2 linked regions of the Homo sapiens genome follow. The protein of the gene in region 1 interacts with the protein of each later gene in a pairwise test. Each region holds a gene or a part of one and is shown in the gene's direction. Other genes may lie near its edges.

Region 1 (3,657 bases):
TTTAGAAATAATTTCATCAAAAGTGCTAAGTTTTTTAGTCATTCCATATTTAAAGAGTTGAGTGTGAGATTTGCTCCTCTCCCTGTGCTAGTTTTACTAGTAAGAGTTCTAGGTTTTTAAAACTGACACCTATTGTTCTTTTTGAAACCAATCTCTTGAAGTTTAGTGGCATACCCATTCACCAAAGTCACTGGCCTTTTCTTTGTTTACATTCTCTTTAAACTCTCCCATATGTTTAATCTTCTGCAGTACCATTGTATCTAGTTCTGTCTTTTTAATAGTGCATTATCAGTAACTCACTATCAGGAAACTCTTTCCTAACAGTGAATGTTTCGTAATATTTAGGTGTTTACTTACTGTTCTTTTCACTCTGTTGCAAACTTTTTTTTTTTAGCTCTTTGTGCAAAATCTTAAATCTGTTTCTCATCTTTACCTGGCTAAACCTGTATCTCCAGTCATGACCTTTTCCCAGTGGAGTTTACCACCATTTCTACTGACAAAGCTGCCTTCTGAATGTTTTTAATTCTGTGGGTAGAATTCTCATTTTATCATTATCTTAGTCAACGTGGGTTTAAAATTTGAAATTATCTCTTAATTTCAAGGTACAGTTAGTAGAAAAATCAGTGACCATTCATTAAGTATCATAGTGTGTGGTATGGCACATGCAATGGTCCAGGTGCTGAAGACTACTTCTTAGAAGGATTTTGTACTGTATTTGGGAAGTTATGATATTATTTATGACTTATTAATTAGTTTTTATTATAAATATTCAGTGACCATAGCCTCTTCAGCATTGGGTGGTAAAGGAAGTCTTCACAAAAGGGGATAGATTGGAGCTCATCATTAAGAATGACTAAGATTTCTCTTGGAAGACACAGATGGGCAGAGGGGCAGGGATTTGGATTGGATCAGAAGGTGTGTATAGTGGAAGAGTAATGGGCAAGATTAGATTAGGACTAGATCTAGCCAGTCTCTTAAGTCTTGGTTCGTCTTCTTTCTGAATGCTAATGATTAGAATTCATGTTTGAATAGTACTGTTGAGTTTGTAAAGCTTGTGTTAGATAGACATTAGTACTTTAATATTTCTGTGACTTAGGAACCATCATCTCTATTTTACAGAAAAGTTAATAGGCTTTGAAAAAGTGATACTAGTAAAGAACAGAATCTGGTGGGCACAGTGGCTCAAGCCTATAATGCCATCAACTTGGGAGACTGAGTCTGGTGTGTTTCATTTCCAGGCATATTTTTATTCTCTGATATCATAGATATCTATAAATAACAATTTTTTTGTTTTAAGTTTGATATAGACATCCTTAGAAAGGTATATATATTTTTACAAATTGTTTTTCTTACTCATTTATTTGATAAATGGACACTATTCTAGGTCCAGGGCATCCAGTGGTTTTGAGGGCAGACGAGACTACCTGCATACTAACATTGCATTGGGGAAAACAAAGTAAATAAACAAAGTTGATAATGTAATATCAGATTAGGGTAAATGCTATAAAAAATGAACAGGGTCAGGGGATAGAGAATGTTGTGAGAATGGGCTGTCATGCTATTTTCAATCAAGTGGTCAGGGAATTCCTCTTTCAGGAGGTGACCTTTGAACAACTGAATTAATTTGAGTGAGTATGCTGCGTTAAGTTACGGGAGAAGAGAATTTAGGGGAGAGAACATCAGATGCAAAGACCTCACATAGAAATAACCTTAGAATACTTGAGAAATGGAAAGAAGTTAAGTGTGGTTAAATGCAATTAGGTAGGATAATGGTTAAGAAATGAGTAAGGAGAAGCCAAGGGCCTGATCATGTATGATATTGTATTCAGAATTCTGGTCTTGAAGCTCCTGTCTTTTTGCCTCCCTCTTCCTTAACTGTCTCTCTGTTGCTCATACACATACTCTCTCACACATACGTACACTACCCTATCTAGCCCCCCATTATATTCTAGTGTTCATGAATCAGTCAGCCAGGCCTGTCTCTTATCTAGCCTAGGAAATGCTATGTTCATGTCTGCCTATATATATATTTTTTTGTTTGTGTGCCTTTGCCTTTGACATTTCCCATCTCATCTCAGACAACCAAACCATGGTTTTACTTCCTGACCCACATGGATTTTATCATACATCCTTGATGTAGATGCAACTGAGGTCAGCCCTTCTTACAGTTCATTTAGTACATAACACTTTATACTCTGTGACCTGTTAGTGACAATTATGCTTTCATTCTCTTTGTTATATCTCTCTATTTTAATGTGGCCAGTTTTGTTTGCCTAGGAAAAATCATCCTACATAGGGCTGGGCAAGACAAGGCACAAGGCATATCCATACATAAGGAGGATATCTTTACTTCCCTGTACCCTTCCCCACCATGGTTCCAGCATAGAAGGCTGGATAGCTGCCAGTAGTTGATCGGCATCCAGAACTGTATCTGGTACTTTAGTAGGCTCTCAGTAAGTGTATTTTGAATGAATCAGTTTATTGACTGTTGAGATTAAACCCTACTTGGCATAACTTTTTTTAAAAAGCCCCATCATGGCTATTCACAATACATGGGATGTAACAAAGAATCAATAATTATTTGTTGAGTGTATGTCAGTTTTACTTTACTCTGTGTTTACATTATCTTTATTTACTTTATGTTATTGTCTGGGCTTTAGCTGAGCACATACATTCTTTTCTGGAAAGATGCACCCCAGTCCAGAATAATATTGATGCTAGAATTTTTCAAAGACAAAGCTATAGCTTTTGGCAATTGTAGGCACAAGAAAGGAAGCATCTTTTGTTACACCATTTTTCCAAACGTTATTCTTGTTACTTTAGTAGGTATTTATCGTCTGTGGTTGGCTGTGCAGCGATCTGCAGGAGATCTTACACATTCTTTTTATTCTTTATTTAGAAATGGGATCTCACTATGTTGCTCAGACTGGACGTGATTGAACTCCTGGGCTCAAGTGAGTCTCCCGAATAACTGGGATTACAGGTGTGTGCCACTGAGCCTGGTTTTTACCAGCTTCTATCGGTGGAGTGCCTGTCACTTCCACCTGTCATCATCAGGAGCTTCTTAATGGTGCAGAACAGTGGTTTACCTGGAGCAAGCTCATTAACCAATATAAAATATCACTTAAAATAAGCCGATAGGAATTATAAAATTAGAAACTGACCCTTTTAAAATGAATTTATTCTCTTTAAATTTATTCAACATACTTAGTTTTACAAATAGATACTTGCCATTTTACTGGCAGTTATAATGATTTATTTGAGGGTTTGGTACATCTTATACAACCGTGAATACAATTTGCATCTAATAATGTGACTTCAGTAGTATCATGATTTTTGTCCAAACCTTCTCAGTCTGGGAAACATTTAAAGAGAATAATGACCTTAGAGAAGAGCTGGATTTCTTTTAAGACTTCTATTCAGATCAGGACACAATCACGTTCAAAATTGACATAGCATGTAACATGGATTTCAGTGAAGAAAAGTACTTCAGAATCAAATTTTAGAAGAGTGTTTTAGGGTTTAGTGGCCTAATCAAAGGGAGTCCAGAAGCTATTTTTGGATAATACATAGGAGGTAGAGCAACCTGGTTTTGCCTCTGGTTATCATTTGACATTGCCAGTGTCTTACTTGTTCATATTATGGGGAAGGAATCGA
Region 2 (3,657 bases), on another chromosome or scaffold:
GGGACCAAGGCTCATTAGTAGGTTAGGGTCTGCTGTACCTACCCGTCTGCCAACATCTATCTGCCAATATTCCCAGACTTTCCTGTTTCTAAATGCTGATTTAGATAAATGCTTTTCTAACCAAAATGAAGCAGTATGGTATTTAAGTCAACCATGGAAATAAGCATTAACATATGTGCCCCCACCTGAAAGACATCAGGTTAGGTTCGATTTGAATCAGGCAGGAGGCCAGATGCAATCAAGTCCCTGAAGTCTGGAACTCCACCAGAAGAAGAGATCAGGCTCCCCTGCCCCAGGATCCTCCAGACTGCAGAAGATCTAGGGAGGTCAGAATAGAGCAGGGCTCCCACATCTTTGATAAAATGTGATTTTGTAAACTAGAAGAAAGGGGGAAATGGCAAAAGCAGGCCTTTCTCTAAAAGGTCTAATAAACGGGATGATGCCGGGGTACTTTCCAGGCCTCCCTCATGCCATCTCTATCTCTACGATTACATCACAAGCCCCAGAACACCCTGGCTCTACACGCAAGGCAGGCCACACACTGGACTGCTTGCATAGACCTAGAGCAGTTCAGTGGCTCAGTGAGGACTTGCTATCCCAACTGGACCAAGTTGGAAGCCCTACATGGTATGTGAGATCACAGAATTGGTATTTGATACCCCTGGAAATGGTTGCATCGTCATTTCACCAATACAGCTACACTTTCCTCTAAGGCCTGTGGGTTTGACATTGATCCTTATATGTTTATTTGTTCATGGGCTTGTTAGAAAGCTTTTAGATTGAGATTTAGGCAAAAAAGAAAGTGAACTTGGTTTTTAGCCGTAAATTTCTCTAGACCATTCTTAGGTCAAACTAACCAGCTTCCTTCTGCAGAAATTGTTCAGTGCTACATGGGCATGTGAGAACAAATTTTGCGTGCTCAGTGCTAAGACACTTTCTCCCACCAACTCTACCTTTCTCATAACAAGATCTTAAAAGATGATTTCATTCCCTCAGTCCTTAGGTGCTGTCCTGTCCTCAGGTGCTGATGTCTAATCACCACACTGTTTGGTTCAGTCACCTGCTATCATCCCTCCAGTTTAGGGGTTCTGTCTCTTTAATCAGCAGGCAAAAAATTCAGACTCAGGCTTTTGACCCTGCAAAATGGAGAAGCATGTACTGCTTTTGAATTTTTAAAAAAAAAAAAAAACAGTTAGAAATTTGACACTAAGACATCTAAGCAACTGGGTGGAGATCTGAAGTAGCAAGTGAAAATGATACCATTAATGATATTGATGATGGATGTAAAGGCAATTGCAAACAATTGGTTTTTTGTTCTTAACTCCAGTCAAACACTTACCAAAACAACTAAACTGGTTGGACTTCAACAATCTAAATGAAATCTTGAAGCATGAATGTATTTCCCATGCAGTATGGAAAGGAAGAGAGAGAGAAAGTAGTTAAAAAACAATCTCCATTCCTACCACACACCTTTGGCTTGCATTGTTCACCACCTTTTAAAGTAATGCCTGATGTGTTATATGCTGGTCCTCCAGAAATTCTAAACTTTCCCCAGAAGTGACCTTTGTTCTCCCAGTGCCTCACAACACTCTTAAATACCAAAGAGCTTCAGGGGGCAAGGACAAGAATTTTCTAAAGGAAACCCTTCTCCACTTGCACTGGACAGGCTGTCAAGACCCAGCAAGACACTTTGTCATGTTATCTCACTCCACATTCGCTTTCTCTCCTTGTAGCTACCTCATCCCTGAACTCCCAGCTCCAGCAGCTCCAGCTCCAGCTCCAGCAGCAGCAGCAGCAGCAGCAGCAGCAGCCTCCCCCGTCAACCAACCAGCACCCGCAACCAGCCCCACAGGCGCCCTCGCAGTCCCAGCAGCAGCCGCTGCAGCCCACCCCACCCCAGCAGCCACCACCCGCCTCTCAGCAGCCGCCAGCTCCTACATCTCAGCTGCAACAGGCGCCTCAGCCCCAGCAGCACCAACCCCACTCCCACTCCCAGAACCAGAACCAACCATCTCCAACCCAGCAGAGCTCCAGCCCCCCGCAGAAACCTAGTCAGTCTCCAGGACATGGCCTGCCTTCACCGCTCACGCCACCCAATCCTCTACAGGTATGCTCCCCGTGCTTCCCGTCTGCCCCTAGGAGCACCAAGGACCTTTCCATGGGGTGGTGCCATCCCCAAAGGCAGAGGGACCACACAAAACTTAGCATCCAGTTCTGCAGCATCTAATTCAAATTGATCTCTTAGACATAGGGAAGAAGAAGCAACTAGAAGGCAACTGGGGATGCATGTAAACGAAACAAATAGAAGCCCATTTCTGTTGCCCTCCAAAGGATAAATGTTATCTGTTTCCTTCTGTGAGAGGCCAGCACTATAAGTGCATTTGGAGCCTGTAATAATTCCATTTTATGATACTTTTTGAAGGCAGCAAAGATAGCATCCAATTAAAATTATTACTAGCACAGTTTTGTAGCCCCATGGAGAACTGCATCTACTGTCCATGAGGCATGGTGGTTATTTCTCTATATTATGAATACAACAGTGTCTCACCTTAAGTACTTTGTGCTCTTTTGTTTCTATTTTTCTAAAGACTCTCTGGGGTTAGGAGGGCAAAGAAATTTAGCCCCAGTCTTATGTCCCAGATTCCAACCATTACTCCACAGACTAACAAGTACTCTAAATTCATGCCAAGAGCCTCAACCAATATGCATCTTTATAAAGGAATAAAACTTCTATAGGTTTACTTTATTACTGTGAGGCTGAGAGCTTCATAAATAGATATTTCAGGCTAACCATGAGAGCTCATCTATAACCTACCTATTGAGAAGGAATGGATAGGTGCATTCATATATATATATATATATATATGACTTTAAACTTCAGAAAACCATTTTTAACTTAGGTGTCTTTAAAATAAATTAGCTTCAAAACATAATGACTGTGATGTCATCATATCAGATCCAGAAATTAATAACTCAGCCAAGCCATCCATTCTTTGACTTGCACAATGACATTTTTCCCTGTGAGATTTCAGACAATCTCGTGTATTTGTAGTACTGTGACAAAGTTAAACAGAGTGAGCAGCCTGTGGACCTGTTTCAAGTGCCATCTCATCCCCTTGCCATAGTGGTGGGTATAAACCTCAGTCAGTCCGGCTCTCCCCAGCCTGAGAATGACAGTAGCGATGGTATCCTTGGCTCCTAAATAGAAAAGTATACAAAATAAAGACAGGTTGGTACACGGACAGAAAGGCAGGTGGATTAGAGACTTGGTATTTTAGAACTTAGTTTGTTGTCCCATAGCTTTGTCTCTTCCAATTTGGATTCTCAGTGGTGTGGCCCAAAGCATTCCTAGAAATGAACACATTTGGGAGAGATGAGTCATTGTGTTTTTCTGGGCTCTTGGGCCAGGGCTACTTTCAATTTGAACATTTTCATGAGTGGAGTTTCAAGATGTATTTATACAATTCTTACGATGGTGAGACAACGTAACACCTTTGACCTAGGACTAAAATGAACATGGTCCAAAAACGTCTTCATTGTCCACTTGACACCTACTGAAAGAGCAGGTGTCATCAAATTTACAGAAGGCATGATTACAGCAACCTTAATGTTGGCAGCATTTGGGATTCAACTTTATTATTCCAAAAAATTAATTTA

Evidence for each region.
Region 2: the proteins of SMAD5 (region 1) and POU6F2 interact in binary tests that used the Homo sapiens proteins (3 or more experiments, as listed by UniProt).

Annotation. Positions count from the first base shown.
Region 1 is NC_000005.10:136,149,776-136,153,432, forward strand, and holds part of SMAD5 (mothers against decapentaplegic homolog 5), read left to right. Parts: intron 1-2,899; exon of another isoform or gene 2,900-2,983; intron 2,984-3,657. UniProt on the Homo sapiens protein: Transcriptional regulator that plays a role in various cellular processes including embryonic development, cell differentiation, angiogenesis and tissue homeostasis.
Region 2 is NC_000007.14:39,337,909-39,341,565, forward strand, and holds part of POU6F2 (POU domain, class 6, transcription factor 2), read left to right. Parts: exon of another isoform or gene 1-1,212; intron 1,213-1,733; coding exon 1,734-2,107; intron 2,108-3,657. UniProt on the Homo sapiens protein: Probable transcription factor likely to be involved in early steps in the differentiation of amacrine and ganglion cells. Recognizes and binds to the DNA sequence 5'-ATGCAAAT-3'. Isoform 1 does not bind DNA.